Regions from separate parts of the Homo sapiens genome. Here regions 1 and 2 are each reported to be linked to region 3. Evidence: microRNA targets listed by miRTarBase, many of them from high-throughput screens and not tested one by one. Region 3 holds a microRNA gene; each other region holds the end of a gene's coding sequence. Distances are from middle to middle.

Evidence for each region. The annotated mature microRNA hsa-miR-331-3p reads GCCCCUGGGCCUAUCCUAGAA and lies in region 3 at 3,319-3,339, shown strand. An mRNA with a match to its seed (bases 2 to 7 or 8) in the 3' UTR can be bound and repressed. Matches are read on the target gene's strand: a 7mer-m8 pairs with bases 2 to 8, a 7mer-A1 pairs with bases 2 to 7 and ends in A, and an 8mer does both.
Region 1: miRTarBase lists PLCH2 as a target of hsa-miR-331-3p. The part of its 3' UTR that is shown has no 7-base or 8-base seed match.
Region 2: the mRNA of GAPDH is a reported target of hsa-miR-331-3p. The part of its 3' UTR that is shown has no 7-base or 8-base seed match.

What each region holds. Positions count from the first base shown.
Region 1 is chr1:2,504,229-2,509,298 of GRCh38, reverse strand. It overlaps PLCH2 (phospholipase C eta 2), which reads right to left. Exons shown (of 22, transcript NM_014638.4): 22 at 3,767-5,070. The coding sequence ends at 4,086. It overlaps PANK4 (pantothenate kinase 4 (inactive)), which reads left to right. Exons shown (of 19, transcript NM_018216.4): 19 at 239-762. The coding sequence ends at 452. Among named protein-coding and RNA genes, the nearest start is that of PANK4, 20 kb to the left of the region's middle.
Region 2 is chr12:6,537,886-6,542,955 of GRCh38, reverse strand. It overlaps GAPDH (glyceraldehyde-3-phosphate dehydrogenase), which reads right to left. Exons shown (of 9, transcript NM_002046.7): 8 at 4,960-5,070; 9 at 4,585-4,855. The coding sequence ends at 4,786. IFFO1 (intermediate filament family orphan 1) reads left to right here. Exons shown (of 10, transcript NM_001193457.2): 9 at 1,314-1,444; 10 at 2,368-3,417. The coding sequence ends at 2,473. Among named protein-coding and RNA genes, the nearest start is that of GAPDH, 5.9 kb to the right of the region's middle. RefSeq lists enhancers at 2,077-2,216, 2,247-2,396, 3,177-3,386.
Region 3 is chr12:95,305,162-95,310,233 of GRCh38, forward strand. It overlaps MIR331 (microRNA 331), which reads left to right and starts at 3,259; the gene lies at 3,259-3,352. It overlaps MIR3685 (microRNA 3685), which reads left to right and starts at 4,762; the gene lies at 4,762-4,823.

The DNA of each region.
Region 1 (5,070 bases), not on the chromosome of region 3:
AGTTCACAGGAGATCTAGGGCAGAGTTTCCAAGCTGCAGCTGCTCTGGCCCTGTGTGAGCTGCTGCTCTGAGGAAGCCCCAGGCTGAGGCAGCTACCAGGCGGAGGCTGGGTTTGGAGGCCTCCACATCAGGGAATTGAGCGGTAGGGGTTTCAGCCTTCACGTTGGTCGCCGCACTGTATGGGAAGTGGGGTCTGGGGTCTGCTTGCCCAGTCTCACCGTCCTCTTCCTCCCCAAAGCCGCCTGGATAAGGGGCTGGCCGCACTGGTGCGGGAGCGTGGCGCGGATCTGGTGGTCATCGAGGGCATGGGCCGTGCTGTCCACACAAACTACCACGCAGCCCTGCGCTGCGAGAGCCTCAAGCTGGCCGTCATCAAGAACGCGTGGCTGGCCGAGCGGCTGGGCGGCCGGCTCTTCAGCGTCATCTTCAAGTACGAGGTCCCAGCCGAGTGAGGCGCTGCAGCTGCCGGACTCTTCTGCTTGTCACTTGTCAGGAATGTGTTTTTACCACCACAGGGAAACTGCGTTCAAATCAACGTATTTATATGGTACTGCTGTGACGCGGCACATACACCCCAGCCGCACAGATGCGTGTGACCCAGAGGCGAGACGCAGCTTTGTCCTGGGAGACGTTCATATTGGAATCTATTTAACTGCTAAAGAACCTTTTATATATATATATATATAAATAGAGAGATCTATACAGGTATGTCTGACGGGACGCAGCACCGTGGGCACGCACCAAATAGAGTTTTTAAAAGAGGCCGGAGCCATCTGCGATGTTTTATTTCGGAGCAGGGGCCCCTCCCGACTCCTCCCATGGGGGGAGCCCAGAGCGGGAGCCCTTCCCTGCGCTGCTTCTAGACCTTGTAGGCAACGAGTGCCAGCCGCCCCGCAGACCCCATGGCCCCGGGCCCCTGCGTCTCTCACCGCTCCCTCCGGGCCAGAAGAACCAACTCAGCCACCCTCGTCCCTCCAGCGCCCTCCCCCTGCACCTGCGGGATGTGTGGGTGCTGAGCAGCAATTCCTGACTCGAGAGCCTGGGAAAGGAGCCCTCGACATCGATCACCCTCAAGGGCTCTCAGGCAGCCAGGGGCCGACGTGGACCCTGCTAGGAACTGTGTGGACCGCGTGGGTTTGGTTGCTATGGCCTTGGGACCAGGCTCCCTGGGGCCGTGTTCTGTGGCTAGGGTGGGCATGGCTGGGGGGAGCTGGCAGCAGGGAGGCCCGCTGGGCCTGGCCCCTGGGAGCTCTGAGGCGCCTGGGGGTCCTCCCCCTCAGCCCAGGTGTGGGATTGAGACCACACATAGCATCGTAGAGAGGGCAGGAGGGCACAGGGCTTGCGGAGGCCCTGCTGGGGTGGGCTGGCTGCAGGCCCCCAGCTTTGACTTCATGTGGTGGGAGCTGTTCCTGGTGCTGAGCTGCTGGGCAGGCCCTGAGGAGGCTGAGCTGCTACCTTGCCCCACCACCCCCACCCCCGCTGGGGTCCCCCACATCCAGAGGCTTCACTGAGACCCCCAAGCACAGGCTGTCCTAGGCCAAGGAGGTGGGGTGGCATGGATCACCTTCCAGACAGCTTTGCTTGGTGGTCTGGAACCTGCAGAGGCTAAGACCCCTCCCTCATGGAGACCTGGCCTGCCCAGAGGTGCCCAGTGGCCATTTCTGGCCCCCACTGTGGTGTCTCTTCGTGACCTGCCCTTGGAGTCTGCGTGGAACCTGAGTCCCAGCCCTCGTGCAGCGGCCACCAAAGGGTCTCGTGTCCTGGCAGAGGAGCCCGGGGGCAGCTGGGCTATCCTGAGGTGGACTGTCCCCCTGGCTCCAGCTTCTCCCTCCTGTGGGTCCCCAGGGCAGAGGCCCAGCCCCCGGAACCCCATGGGCCCTCACCACTTTCCGGCCCTCTCCTCAGGCCCGGCTCTCTGATGGGGAAGCCCTCCCAGCCTGCATCTCTGTAGCCTTCCCTGACCCCACTCGGCCCCTCCAGCTCTTGCTCCCATCCTGGCCCCACCCTCACTGGTGGTGGGTGGCAGCAGTGGCCTGGCCGCTCTGGGCACCCGGATGTGTGACTGCCTGGCCTGACACCCACAGGGCTTGACCCCGGGGTTGGAGAGTCCATCTGTGCTGGGGACGCACCCACTACAGAGGTTTGGCCTGAGCCTGGCCCAGACAGGATGCCGAGGAGGAGGTGGGGGATGCACAGAGGCCTGGAAGGACAGAGCCAGGACAAAGACACCAGGGCCTAGCCCAGGCTCAGCCCCTGCACACCCCCATGCAGGGCCTGCCGGTGGCCACGGCCTCAGCTCCCCTCTTGCACAAGGGGCCACCCAGCCTATGAGCCAGGCACCCCTGTGCCTCCGGGCAACCCCAGCCTCTGTGACCCCAGCCCTTCCCCAGCCCTTTCCCAGCCCTTCCCCAGCCCTTTCCCGCCGAAGCCGGAGCTGGAGCAGGAGGGCTCTGGCCTCTGCCTTGTTCCCTTGATGTGGCCATTTCAACGGCGCTTTCCTCAAAACACGAGCTGGCCCCAGGCCCTCAGCCCCTCCTTGACTCCCGCAGACCCCCAGCTGGCTCCCCAACCTCTGCCCTGCCCACGGCACCACTTGGGGGCTCGCCAGGAGGCCTCGGTCACCAGGCTGCTGTCAGTGTCACTGCCGGGGGCTCTGTGAGTCCCCTGTCCCAGAGCTGAGACTCCTCAGGTTCAGGTGCCGCCCCGGGCCCCAGGCAACCAGCTCACCACACCCCTGCTCTCGGTGGGGCTGCAGCTGCCCACACGCAAGTGTTCTGGGGCTCGAGGATGACGAAGTCCTGCCAGGCTCTCTCTGAGGGGCGTGGTGGGGCTGGGGGAAGGGCGGCACCAGTGGCCCCTCTGCCTGGCTGAGCTGGGGAAGTGGTGACAGCGATTCCTGTGGCCGCCCACAATCCCTGTCAGTGCAGGAACATGGTGAGGGCAGAACAGCCCCCTTAGAGCTCCCCCAGCACCCCAGGATCCCGGCCTCCGGGCCTCAGGCCCGCCTTCCCAAGGGCCCTGCCTGGGCACAACGCAGCCAGGGGTGAGACGGGATACCCCGACAGAGCAGTGCTCATCCGGGTGGTGCGCCGGGCAGGCCCCTTGGGCAGCCGCAGGTGACAGAGCCTCATGGGGCAGGACATCCCCTGACTCCCCTGGCCACAGGGTGGGCCACACCCACTCCCACTGTTGGGGCAGCAGAGGACGGGCTGCAGCACAGGCTTCCAGAGGCCCGACCAGCACCCCAGCTTCTCTAGGGTAGGGGCCTTTCTGGAACCACCATGCTCTGCAGGCAGAGCAGTCCCCCGGGTTGGGGGGCCTGTGGCCCGGGGTTAGGGCCTGCGTCCTGAGGAGCAGGCTTTGCAGCCTACCCTGGGAGCCTGTCCAGCTCAGCCCTCTGAGGACAGGCCAGGTCTTTTCTTGGGGTGTCTTCTGGGCCTGGCGCAGGCTCCGACGGGCACCTGGTAAGTAAGTGGCACAGGAGGCTGAGCGAACGGGAAGCCCATGCGTGCTGGTGAGCACGTTTATCAGAACCACGTTTGGGAGTTGACAGAGGCTTAGGCATGGTGCAGAGGGTGGCGTGGTCGGTGCAAGGCAGATACAGGCTTCAGGGCAAGGCCCAGACGGCCGTCCTGAGCAGCCCTGGTGCCTCACAAGCACCCCCGCCTGTGCCGTGGCCAGGTCAGCCGCGCCTCCCGGGGCAGGCTCAGGACAGGTGCGCACAGATGCACACCACACACACCTGGGGTGAAAAACCAGGTAAAAATGGAAAGGGACTTGGTATCATTTTAATGTTGTATAAGTTTTGCTTCTAAAAATTTAAATATTTCTCTATGTACAGATCCTAAAACGCCGGGAAAACTGCCTGGCAGGGCCAGCCTCGAAGCCCCTCCTGTGGGCCCCGGGCCAGCAGCTTTAGCCTTTCCTCCCCGGGAGCAGGGGCAGGAGGGAGGCAGGGGTGGAGGGGACACAGGGCAGCCAGGGGGACACAGTTTTGGGGGCCTGGCTGCCCTGTTTCCTGAGCAAACAACACGCCCACCCCTGCCCTGGGCCTCCAGAGCCGCCCAGGTTCCCACCACTGACGGTCAGAGGCGGAGCAGGACCAGGTTTTCAGCAGCCGCGGATGCTGGCCCGAGGGCTCCCTTGGAGGGTGCTGGTGCATCCACACTGCCCTCGTGGCCCACGGAGCAGGCGCCCTCGGGGGTGCCCCGCTCCTCTTCTGGGGGTCCCTGCCGGCCCAGGCCCTGCAGTCTCTGCTGCCGCTCCTGGGCCTGGCGGGCCCGGCTGGCAATGGCACGCACGCGGCTGTGGCTGCGGGAGGAGGAGCGCCGCACAAAACCAGGGCCCCCTGCCACCCCCTCCCCAGCCGGGCCCAGGCTGGTGGGTGACGTGATGTCTCCTGCCTGCTGGAAGACAGTGAGCCAGCGCAGCTGCTCTGTCAGGGTGTCCCGTCTCACCCCTGGCCCCGACACCCGCCGTGTCCCTCCCGGGAGGCCCAGGCTGTGGCTCAGTCTGCGGGAGCCGCCCTCAAAGCTAGGGGCAAAGTCATCAGCAGTGAGGTCGCCCAGGCTCTTGGACTTGGCAGCCACGGGGCAGTCCTGCACGCCCACCAGGGAAAGGCAGCCCCAGGGAGGCCGGAAGGGGAGGCCAGCCATCCTTGGGGCCAGGGACCTGGGCTGCAGTTCGTCAGGTATGGGAGGCCGCTGGCCTGTAGCCCGAAGGTTGGGGTTGGATTTGCTCTTGGTCACAGGTGGCAGGTCTGGGCGGGCAGCCGAAGCCGAGTGGGGCCTGGGGGGCAGGCGTCCCATGTGGGCTCCAGCGAGGTTCTCACGGCTGCGGCCCAGGCCCAGGCTGGGCAGGGAGAGGTCAATGACAGTGTCGCTGGATGACATGCTGGAGGAGGAGGAAACGCTGTCTCGGTGGCCACATGGCTCCAGCCGCTGCCACAGCGGGTCACTGCCCGTGGCATCGGAGTACACGGCAGGAGCTGGAAAGGGAGCGGCCAGGGGCCGCCACCCTCCCAGGGGCTCCGTGGGCACCTGCCCCTCACTCTTCACCCTTCTAATCACG
Region 2 (5,070 bases), 89 Mb from region 3:
ACATATGCAGAGACTACTGGTGGCAGTACTAGCCTTGTATTTCAGTAGAATATATTTGGTTCATTTCCTTCTTCCCAGTCTCCCTGAGTGATGGTTCCAGAACCCAGCTCCCTGCACTCCGGTTCTTCCAAGGTGGAGAAATTGGGGTGTAGGCAGCTGATCTGAACAAGGGCTGGTGGCACTGTATTTTCCCCCTGGGTTGAACAGTCACCGTGTCCTGCTCCTCCCACTACTGTGGGGCCCCAGCTGTGGATCCAAGCCTGCCAGGGAAGCTGTCCCCACTAGGGCTTCTCACCCAGCCAGCCGCCATCTCACCCCAAATGTCACTGTCCTGACCATCTCTGCTGTCTGGCCCTGTAACCTGTTTCCTTCTTTCTCTAAGTTCCCACCCTCTCTGTCCAATCCACATTATGGCAGCTGGTATCCTCCCCGTTCTCTTCACTCAGGCAGTCACGAACGTCATCTCCAGGAAGTTTCATTTTGCTTCCCCTTGCGGCCCCTGCCCTTTGTACCCAAAACAAAGAGAGGCAGTCGACTGTCCCTGGCACTGAGTTTGTGCTGCCTGGGCCCTGCCTCTCCGCCTGCCTCAGAGTGTGGGCTGCAGAATGGGCCCGGGGAGGGAGACCGGATTTCTTTGATTCTGAGCCCCGTGTTTTCCACGTGTGACATTTCTGAAATCAGGACAGGTCTCAGAATCAATGGCACCTCCAATATGGGAGTCTTCCTTTTAGTGTCTGAAAATGGCTTTTAGGTGAGAAAATAAAGTGATAAGGAGAGAATGGTAAGAGGATTGGGCCCCTTTCAGCAGTTAGCCAGGCTTGTATGCCACGGGTCACAGAGAGAGTTAATTCCCTTCGAGGTCTGGGTCTGCCAGGATGAGGAAAACCTGTCGCTAACCCTTACGGGAGCTCACAGTGCAGTGAGGGGACAGCCCAGGACCAGCGCAGTACAGGGGATGAGGGGTGAGCCGGGCCCCATAGGAACCTGTGTGGCCCTGGGAGCCTGTGGATCTGCTCCATCCCGCCCACACTGACTTTCCTCACCACTCTTATCAGTCTTAAAAGAACACAGCCTGCAGCAGTACCTTTGCATTCCTCCATAGGCAAAGATTTCCAGGAAAAGCAGAGGAAACAATGGTGTATTCGCTGCCTTCTGCCTTGGTCTGGTTTATTTTAAAATCTGAGCCTTCAGTAATGGCTGCCTGGGCCCCCGGCCCAGCCACTGCTCTTGGCGTGTTGGCCTCCTGGCGGGGGCAACAGAGGCGCTGTGAACGCCACCTGTTAACCCCGATGGCCCTGCCTGCCCCACCACAGCTGGAGTTGGCCACGGCCAAGAACGACATGAACCGGCACCTGCACGAGTACATGGAGATGTGCAGCATGAAGCGCGGCCTGGACGTGCAGATGGAGACCTGCCGCCGGCTCATCACCCAGTCTGGAGACCGGTAGGCGCCTCCCCTGGGCATGGGGCCTTCCAGGGGGACACAGCGGGGAGAAAGGTTGGAACACAGCCCCAGAGACCCTCAGGCAATGACTGGGTCACATCTTGCTGTGGGGCTGCCCTTTGGGAGTTACCTGGTGGGGCTGGCCCAGACCCACAGCTCTCTCCCTTGGCAGTTGGATGAGCTATGTCCATTCATGACGGGAGGGCTGAAACCTCCCAAGGCCACCAGCTCTGGTGGTTCCCCTGGTTAGAGGCAGTTTAAAAACTGGCAAGGAACAGAAGGGTTGTGGGGGCAGATTTTTATCTAAAGTCAGGGCCATGATTTGTGCATTTGACCCTGTGTAAGTTACACCGCAACAAGAAAGTGAATTTTTAAAAATCACAAAAATACTGCAGATAGACATAAAGCCAAGGCCCTAGAGTCAGGGTGCTGGAGGCTCAGCAGCTTCTCTCCTACTGTGACTTCAGCTATTTCTTTTTTTTTTTTTTTTGGCTCACTACAACCTCCGCCTCCCAGGTTCAAGTGATTATCTTGCCTCAGCCTCCAAGGCGCCCGCCACCACACCTGGCTAATTTTTGCATTTTTAGTAGAGATGGGGTTTCACCATGTTGGCCAGGCTTGCCTTGAACTCCTGACGTCGTGATCCACCCGCCTCTGCCTCCCAAAGTGCTGGAATTACAGGCGTGAGCCATCATGCCTGACCTCAGCCTCTGAGTTCCCAAGACACAGGCGGGGCCCATTTCCCTGTCAGGGTGGGTTTGGAGAGAGTTCAGTCCCTGCCGCTCCCTCGCCATCCCGCGGCCCCGCCCTCGCTTCCGGTACTTCTCACGGGCTGCCAGAGGGTGAGGCAGCAGGAGGAGGAGTGCCGTCCGTCTTCAGGATTCCTGCCTGCCCCAAGGTTGACAACTGGTGTTTTTTTCTAGAAAGTCTCCTGCTTTCACTGCGGTCCCGCTTAGCGACCCGCCGCCGCCGCCAAGCGAGGCTGAGGACTCCGATCGCGATGTCTCATCTGACAGCTCCATGAGATAGAGACCTGCCTCCCCCTTGCACCCGAGGCCCTCGCAGCAGGGAGCTCAGCGAGGCAGAGGGTGGGGCTGCACAGAGGGGAACATCAGCTGCAGCTCTGCACCAGGCCGGTCCCTGGGGACTGGGGCGCTCCTCCCTCAGGCTTTCTCCCTCAGTCTTGGCTTCTCCAGGGCTCTGGGGTGTCTGGAGCTAGGCTTGGCCCTACCATTCTGGGGCCATTTCCACCACAGTTGGGGCTCTCCTGCCTTCACGCGTGGGTGTCTGCTACTTCCCCATCTTTAAAATGCTGCCAGAGCGATTGCGGCCCCTCACCTTGTCCACGTATCAGGAATGTGAATGTGGGACCTTTCCTCCATCCCTGTTGTCCGGAGCCAGCTCACTGTCTTCCACACTGGTGCTAACTGGCCCAGGCACTGGAGTGGAATAGAATGCAGCTGGAGGCTACGCATGGCCTCTGCAGCACACGCAGCTGGAGAGGGCTTCTGTCCCTGTCAGCGGCAGAGGGCGTTGGGGCTGGCCGGGGCACCTTGTCCCTGCTATGGTCCACGTGCTCACGCTGTCCACCTGCCAGGTGGAGTGTATGTGGCTGTGGCCCTCCCTCGTGGAGGTGCCGTGCTTTAAAGAGGCCTTAGTGCCCGGGATGGGCACAGTGTTTTGAAGGGAGGTGGGAGCTCTTGCTCTCCTGGTCACTGCAGAATGACAGAGAAGGTGAAGCTCCATGCATGTGTGCGCGGGTGTATGTGCGCTCAGGGTCTCTGTTTAAGTATCAGCTAAAGATGTGCTTCCTCCGTGTCTGTCATACACTGAGACCAACAGGCTACAGTGTCCCTGATTCTTGGAAAAGCCTGGAGAAGCTGGGGAGATGCGGTTCACAATGCCTCGGTATAGGAGGCTGTGTTGAGCTGACATTCAAATGGATTCTTTAATAATAATGAAACTGGCGAGTATTTATTGTGCACTTTGGTGTCACTGTCTCAAGCACTTCCTAATATTCACTAGTTTGAACTCTGAGGTAGGTACTTTTTTTTTTTTTGAGATGGAGTCTCATACTCTGTTGCCTAGGCTGGAGTGCAGTGGTGTGGTCTCAGCTCACTGCAGCCTCTGCCTCCGGGGTGCAAGCGATTCTCCTGCTTCAGCATGCCTGTAGCTGGGACTATAGGCATGTGCCATGAAGCCTGGCTGATTTTTGTAATTTTAGTAGAGACGGAGTTTCACCATGTTGGCCAGGCTGGTCTCAAACTCCTGACCTCAGGTGATACACCCACCTTGGCCTCCCAAAGTGCTGGGGTTACAGGCGTGCGCGCTCTACCGAGGTATGTACTTTTGTCTCCACTAGGTAAGCACACGTGCAAAGTGAGGCCCGGGAGTAACTGCCCAAAGCAACTGAGCCGTTCAGTGGCAGAGCCAGGGGTCTGGACCTAGGTCCCAGCTACACGCCTTGCCCCTACCCAAGTTCCCCTAAGGACGATGATGGAAATAAGTCACCCTGACACATCTCAGTTCATCTTCCTCAAAACTATGCGAGGTGGGCATTTTTACCGATTTTTAAACATTATATAGTCCTTACCGCCTTGGGCATGGTTTTAGGTACTTGGTTTACCTAGATGAATCCTGCTTGAAGACCTTAGGGGCTGGCCACGATGTCCTCAGATAAGACACGAGGGCACAGAAAGCAATAGAGCACGTGCTCAAGACCTCACAGCTGCGGAGGCCAAGCTGGAATTGCCCGCTGCAGCTCAGCTCCAGGCTGAGCTCCACTAACCAGTCAGCGTCAGAGCCCAGTGCGAGCCCTGACTTCCTCCACCTGTCAGCCTCCCTGGGGCTGCCCACAGAATAGCTTCTTCCATGTTTGGCCAACAGCAGATAGCCTAGGACTGGAGCGAGGAGAGGAAAAGGCCTTGTTCTCTGAAGTAGTGGTGCCAGCTTCCTGTAGCACTCAAGACGTCTGAGCGGGAAGCAAATGGTTCTCGAAGCAAGCAAGGCTGTTTGGAGGCCCTACCCTCAGTCTGAGGAGAACATACCAGGTCCCTCCCCAGCAAGAATGTCTCACCTTGACACAAGCCCAGCTTCCCTCCCCTCTGCCCCAGACCCTAGAATAAGACAGGACAAGTAACTGGTTGAGCACAGGGTACTTTATTGATGGTACATGACAAGGTGCGGCTCCCTAGGCCCCTCCCCTCTTCAAGGGGTCTACATGGCAACTGTGAGGAGGGGAGATTCAGTGTGGTGGGGGACTGAGTGTGGCAGGGACTCCCCAGCAGTGAGGGTCTCTCTCTTCCTCTTGTGCTCTTGCTGGGGCTGGTGGTCCAGGGGTCTTACTCCTTGGAGGCCATGTGGGCCATGAGGTCCACCACCCTGTTGCTGTAGCCAAATTCGTTGTCATACCTAGAAGATGAAAAGAGTTGTCAGGGCCCTTTTTCTGAGCCAGCCACCAGAGGGCGCCAGACCCTGCACTTTTTAAGAGCCAGTCTCTGGCCCCAGCCACATACCAGGAAATGAGCTTGACAAAGTGGTCGTTGAGGGCAATGCCAGCCCCAGCGTCAAAGGTGGAGGAGTGGGTGTCGCTGTTGAAGTCAGAGGAGACCACCTGGTGCTCAGTG
Region 3 (5,072 bases):
CATTTCTATTACTGCTTGCTTAAGTGTGCCTGTAGCAGTAGCCCTTCTCCACCTTCATAATGTGCCTTCTGATCTGCTTTCATTTTGGAGACCAGACAAACTAAGTTTATTAGACTTCTGTGTAAAGTAAGAATAAATAAACTCAAAGTGAAGACTTGAGGAAGTGGATTATGCTTAAATGCATGGATTTTGTGACATCTGTTACTTTACTACCTGTTTCATTGCTATCGTTAAAATAAGTGAAGCTACCGAATTAGATACCTGCTCTCAAAATAGAAAAGTTGTTATGGTACAAAAGGAACTATTTTGTTTACATACTTTACTTTCTCTAAAGTTAGTTCTATACTAGAATTATTTGGCGCTGATTAAAACTGGTCCACTCAAGTTAGCATTTTCTATAGTATTTTCTATTTGAATTGGAGACTACATGCTGTTAAGAATTTCTTTGGCTTTTTTTTTGTTGTTGTTTTGTTTTGTTTGAGACAGAGTCTCACTCTGTTGCCGAGGCTGGAGTGCAGTGGTGCAATCTCGGCTCACTGCAAGGTCCGCCTCCCAAGTTCACGCCATTCTTCTGCCTCAGCCTCCGGAGTAGCTGGGACTACAGGCGCCCGCCACCACTCCGGCTATTTTTTTGTATTTTTAGTAGAGATGGGTTTTCACCGTGTTAGCCAGGATGGTCTCGATCTCCTGACCTTGTGATCTGCCGTCCTTGGCCTCCCAAAGTGCTGGGATTACAGGCATGAGCCACAGCGCCCAGCCGGCTTTTTTTTTTTTTTTTTTTTTTTTTTTAAGAGAGAAATGTATCTTCATTTCCAAGACATGAAAATAGATTAAGCCCTGAAAAATAAGAAAACATTCACTATTAATGTCACAGAGACCTGAGAAGTAATAAAATTTATAGACTATAGGCAATTATACCACAAAGAATTTATTTTTTGATTATGCTAGTTTTAAAAACAGGGTCTTTATTTTTATTCAGCTATAGTAAGCGGACGTTAAAAGCTTACCAAAAGTTATCAGTGTTAGATCTAATGATATTGGCAGATATTTGAATGACTAAATTCCCACTGTCATTCTGTACTGGGCATGATTAAATTGTAATTTAATATTTAATAATTAAGCAGGATCACTTTTCTCTCTTGAATGAAAAATAAAATTTGCACACTATAATATTTACAAGTAAAAGTCAAATCTGTATAGAAATGGATATCCTAGCATCAAACAACTTATTTTTAGCAACATGCTGATTATTTTAGTAACCATATATTGACTCATGTTTTCATTACAAAGTAACTGTCAAATCAGTCTGTTTATTTTATGACCATGCCTCATAGTCGGCATTCAGTTATCCATGCTAATGGAAGGGATCTGTGGTATAATAATCATAAAAGATAAGTGGTCCAGGCTGGGCGCGGTGGCTCACGCCTGTAATCCCAGCACTTTGGGAGGCCGAGGCAGGTGGATCACGAGGTCAGGAGTTCGAGACCAGCCTGACCAACATGGTGAAACCCCGTCTCTACTAAAAATACAAAAATTAGCCGGGCGTGGTGGTGGTACCTGCCTATAATTCTAGCTACTCAGTAGGCTGAGGCAGGAGAATCACTTGAACCCGGGAGGCGGAGGTTACAGTGAGCCGAGATTGCGCCATTGCACTCCAGCCTGGGTGACAGAGTAAGACTTCATCTCAAAAAAAAAAAAAAAAGATAGGTGGTCCAAACCAGTTTCTTGAGTTGAGACTGCCATTATAGAAGAGATAGTCAAGATACCAAAGCCAGGTCAGTGATAAAAGAAGAAAACTTCTGAGTGTAGTTGTGAGAGGAAAGTGATTCTATTCAGTGTAATTGCTGTAAACCAAAAAGAGGATTAATTGATTCAAGGATTCACACATGTAAAAGTTTAGCATGAATAAGGAGGAACTGATTTTATAGATATTCTAAAATGTGTGATAAGCTAGGACGTAGTGGCTCACACCTACAATCCTAGCACTTTGAGAGGCTGAGGCAGGAGGATCTCTTGAGGCCAGGAGTTCAAGACCAGCTTAGGCAAGAAACAGCAAGACTTGGTCTCTACAGAAAAACTTAAAAATTAGCTGGATGTGGTGGCACACACCTGTAGTCCCAGCTGCTCAGTAGGCTGAGGCAGGAGGATCACTTGAGCCCAGGAGGCCACAGCTGCAGTGAGCCATGATTGCACCACTGCACTCCAGCCTGGGCAACAGAACGAGAGACCTTGTCTCAAAAATAAATAAATGAAAATGGGCTGGGCGTGGTGGTTCACACCTGTAATCCCAGCAGTTTGGGAGGCCCAGGTGGGCGGATCACCTGAGGTCGGGAGTTCAAGAACCGCCTGACCAACATGGAGAAACCCCGTCTCTACTAAAAATACAAAATTAGCCGGATATGGTGGTTCATGCCTGTAATCCCAGCTACTCAGGAGGCTGAGGCAGGAGAATCGCTTGAACCTGGGAGTCGGAGGTTTTGGTGAGCCGAGATTGTGCCAATGCACTCCAGCCTGGGCAACAAGAGTGAAACTCTGTCTCAAAAAAAAAAAAAAAAAAAAAAAGAAGGAAAATGAAATGTGTGATAAATTAAAGTGCATATAGTATTTTTTATGGTATATATTTTAATGTATTTTAGCTTGTCAGCAATGAAATTAGTTTTATCTCTATGTATTGAACTTCATTTAGCAACATATTATTGCAATAGTACAGTATTTAAGCTGCATATTCTCTTGACTGCATTATCCTTTAAAATCAGTATATTCTGTGAGATATGGCTATGGATATATATATTTCCTCTCCTATTTATATCCTAAGATTTTCTTAAAGGATAATTTTACTGTTTTAGGCTTTATGTTTTTCAGTTTTATATCATTTCCTAAAGCTTAGCTACCTACAAATGAATATTATTGAAGAATTTTTCTAAAACTAAAGCATGTCTTTTATAAGTTTACTCTTTTATAATATCCTAAACAAAGCATATCCTTTTCCCCTTCCTTAAGTAAATTCTTAAGGAAATTAACTTCATTTCTAAATCAAAGTATTTTCTGCACTTTTATTGCACCAATCTGTTACCTTCTGTTCATACCATGACTTAAATAATGCTTACTCAGGCACAGTACTATCAGCTGACAACGTACAGAAGGCTCCAGAAATGTCACTCCCATCCCTTAAAGGTTGGTATATGGTCCTGGTACAGTCGTGGAGGTCCATATGGGTGAAAAGCCCAGAAGTCTACCTGAGCTGAAAGCACTCCCAAGGAGTTTGGTTTTGTTTGGGTTTGTTCTAGGTATGGTCCCAGGGATCCCAGATCAAACCAGGCCCCTGGGCCTATCCTAGAACCAACCTAAGCTCGCGCATCATTCCTGGAACATCAAGAGTGTGAAGACTGAAGATAACCTGAGGCCTACCAGACATCCTATATTCACCAAGATTCACATTTTTTGGTATGTGTGCCTACATTTTAGCAAAAATTGGTTGGTTAATCCTTCTAAAATTAGAGGGATGACATTGGGTAACAAAGTCTTCCCAGCCTTTGGCATTATAGTAATTTCTCGCAATAGAAATTCCATACAGATATTATTGCCAGTGAAGAGAGCTATTCTTGTTTATTATCAGTTCTATATTTTTAGCTGAAGCAACTTAGCCCTAAAAAACCCCAAAATCAACTTCTTCCTCCAAATTAAACTCTCCCCCAAATTTAATGGTTTCTGTTTTCTTAAATGTTTTTCTACTTGACACTGTTATGTCAGTCTCATGTAACTGAATAATTGTTCATAATTTCTGAAGAGCATTTAGTCTTTGCCATCTGGCTTCAGTGCCAAATGATTTTCAATTCTTGTTTTTGGAGACTAATGACTTTTTCCTTAATTTATTATCAAATTTGCCACATTTTAGAGCTCACTTTTAGAAGTTCTGCTATGGTTAATGAAAACAAGCTAGAATGACACAGTAGAAATTGGTTAATACGTCACATTTTACATCACTATTTTGTAGAAGATTTTTAGTAAGTTTCTCTATTTTTATTCCTTGCCACTCTGGATTTTACAAATATTCTGACCTAGTTGATCCATCACATGGTCTCATATCACAACTGTTGCATCGCTATATTCACATAGATGTTTTTCTGTTTAATTTAGAAGACAGTATTTCTGAAAAAGTATGAAACGACCCCAAATCCAAAAGTTATGGTGCACAATGAAAATGTATGCTTTTAATAATGCTGGCTTCTGCAGTAGGTGTAGACCATGTTTCAAATAACCACAGACTAATCAGAAACTCCACCTGTGAAAGGAACTTGAAATTGTGCTATTCCTCCAAGCTTATAACACCAGCAAATTGGGTCAATAGGTTATTCCTTTAAAATAGGACTATGAGCCTACAGAGGCTCACTCTGAAGAACTCAGCCGTGGAGTTAGTTCTGTACTATATCCATCACAACAGACATGCTTCATCCCATAGACTTCTTGACATAGCTTGAAATGAGTGAACCCATCCTTGATTTATATACATATATGTTCTCAGTATTTTGGGAGCCTTTCCACTTTTTTAAACCTTGTTCATTATGAACACTGAAAATAGGAATTTGTGAAGAGTTAAAAAGTTATAGCTTGTTTACGTAGTAAGTTTTTGAAGTCTACATTCAATCCAGACACTTAGTTGAGTGTTAAACTGTGATTTTTAAAAAATATCATTTGAGAATATTCTTTCAGAGGTATTTTCATTTTTACTTTTTGATTAATTGTGTTTTATATATTAGGGTAGTACATTTCCTACCCTACCTGAAGACTTGAGATTATAGTCTTTGGGGGGATGGGCAAAGTACTCTCTTTTTTTGCATCTTTTAAATTGTGATTTTTAAAAACACATATAAATTTTACTATCTTAACCATTTTTATGTGTATAGTTCAATGAGATTAAGTCCAGTCACATTGGTGTGAAACAGATCTTCAGAATTTTTTCATCTTGCAAATCTGGGACTCTATACCCATTAAACAACTCCCATTTTCCCCTTCCCCACAGCCTTGGCAACCATCATTCTACTTTTCTCTATGAATTTCACTACTTTAGATAC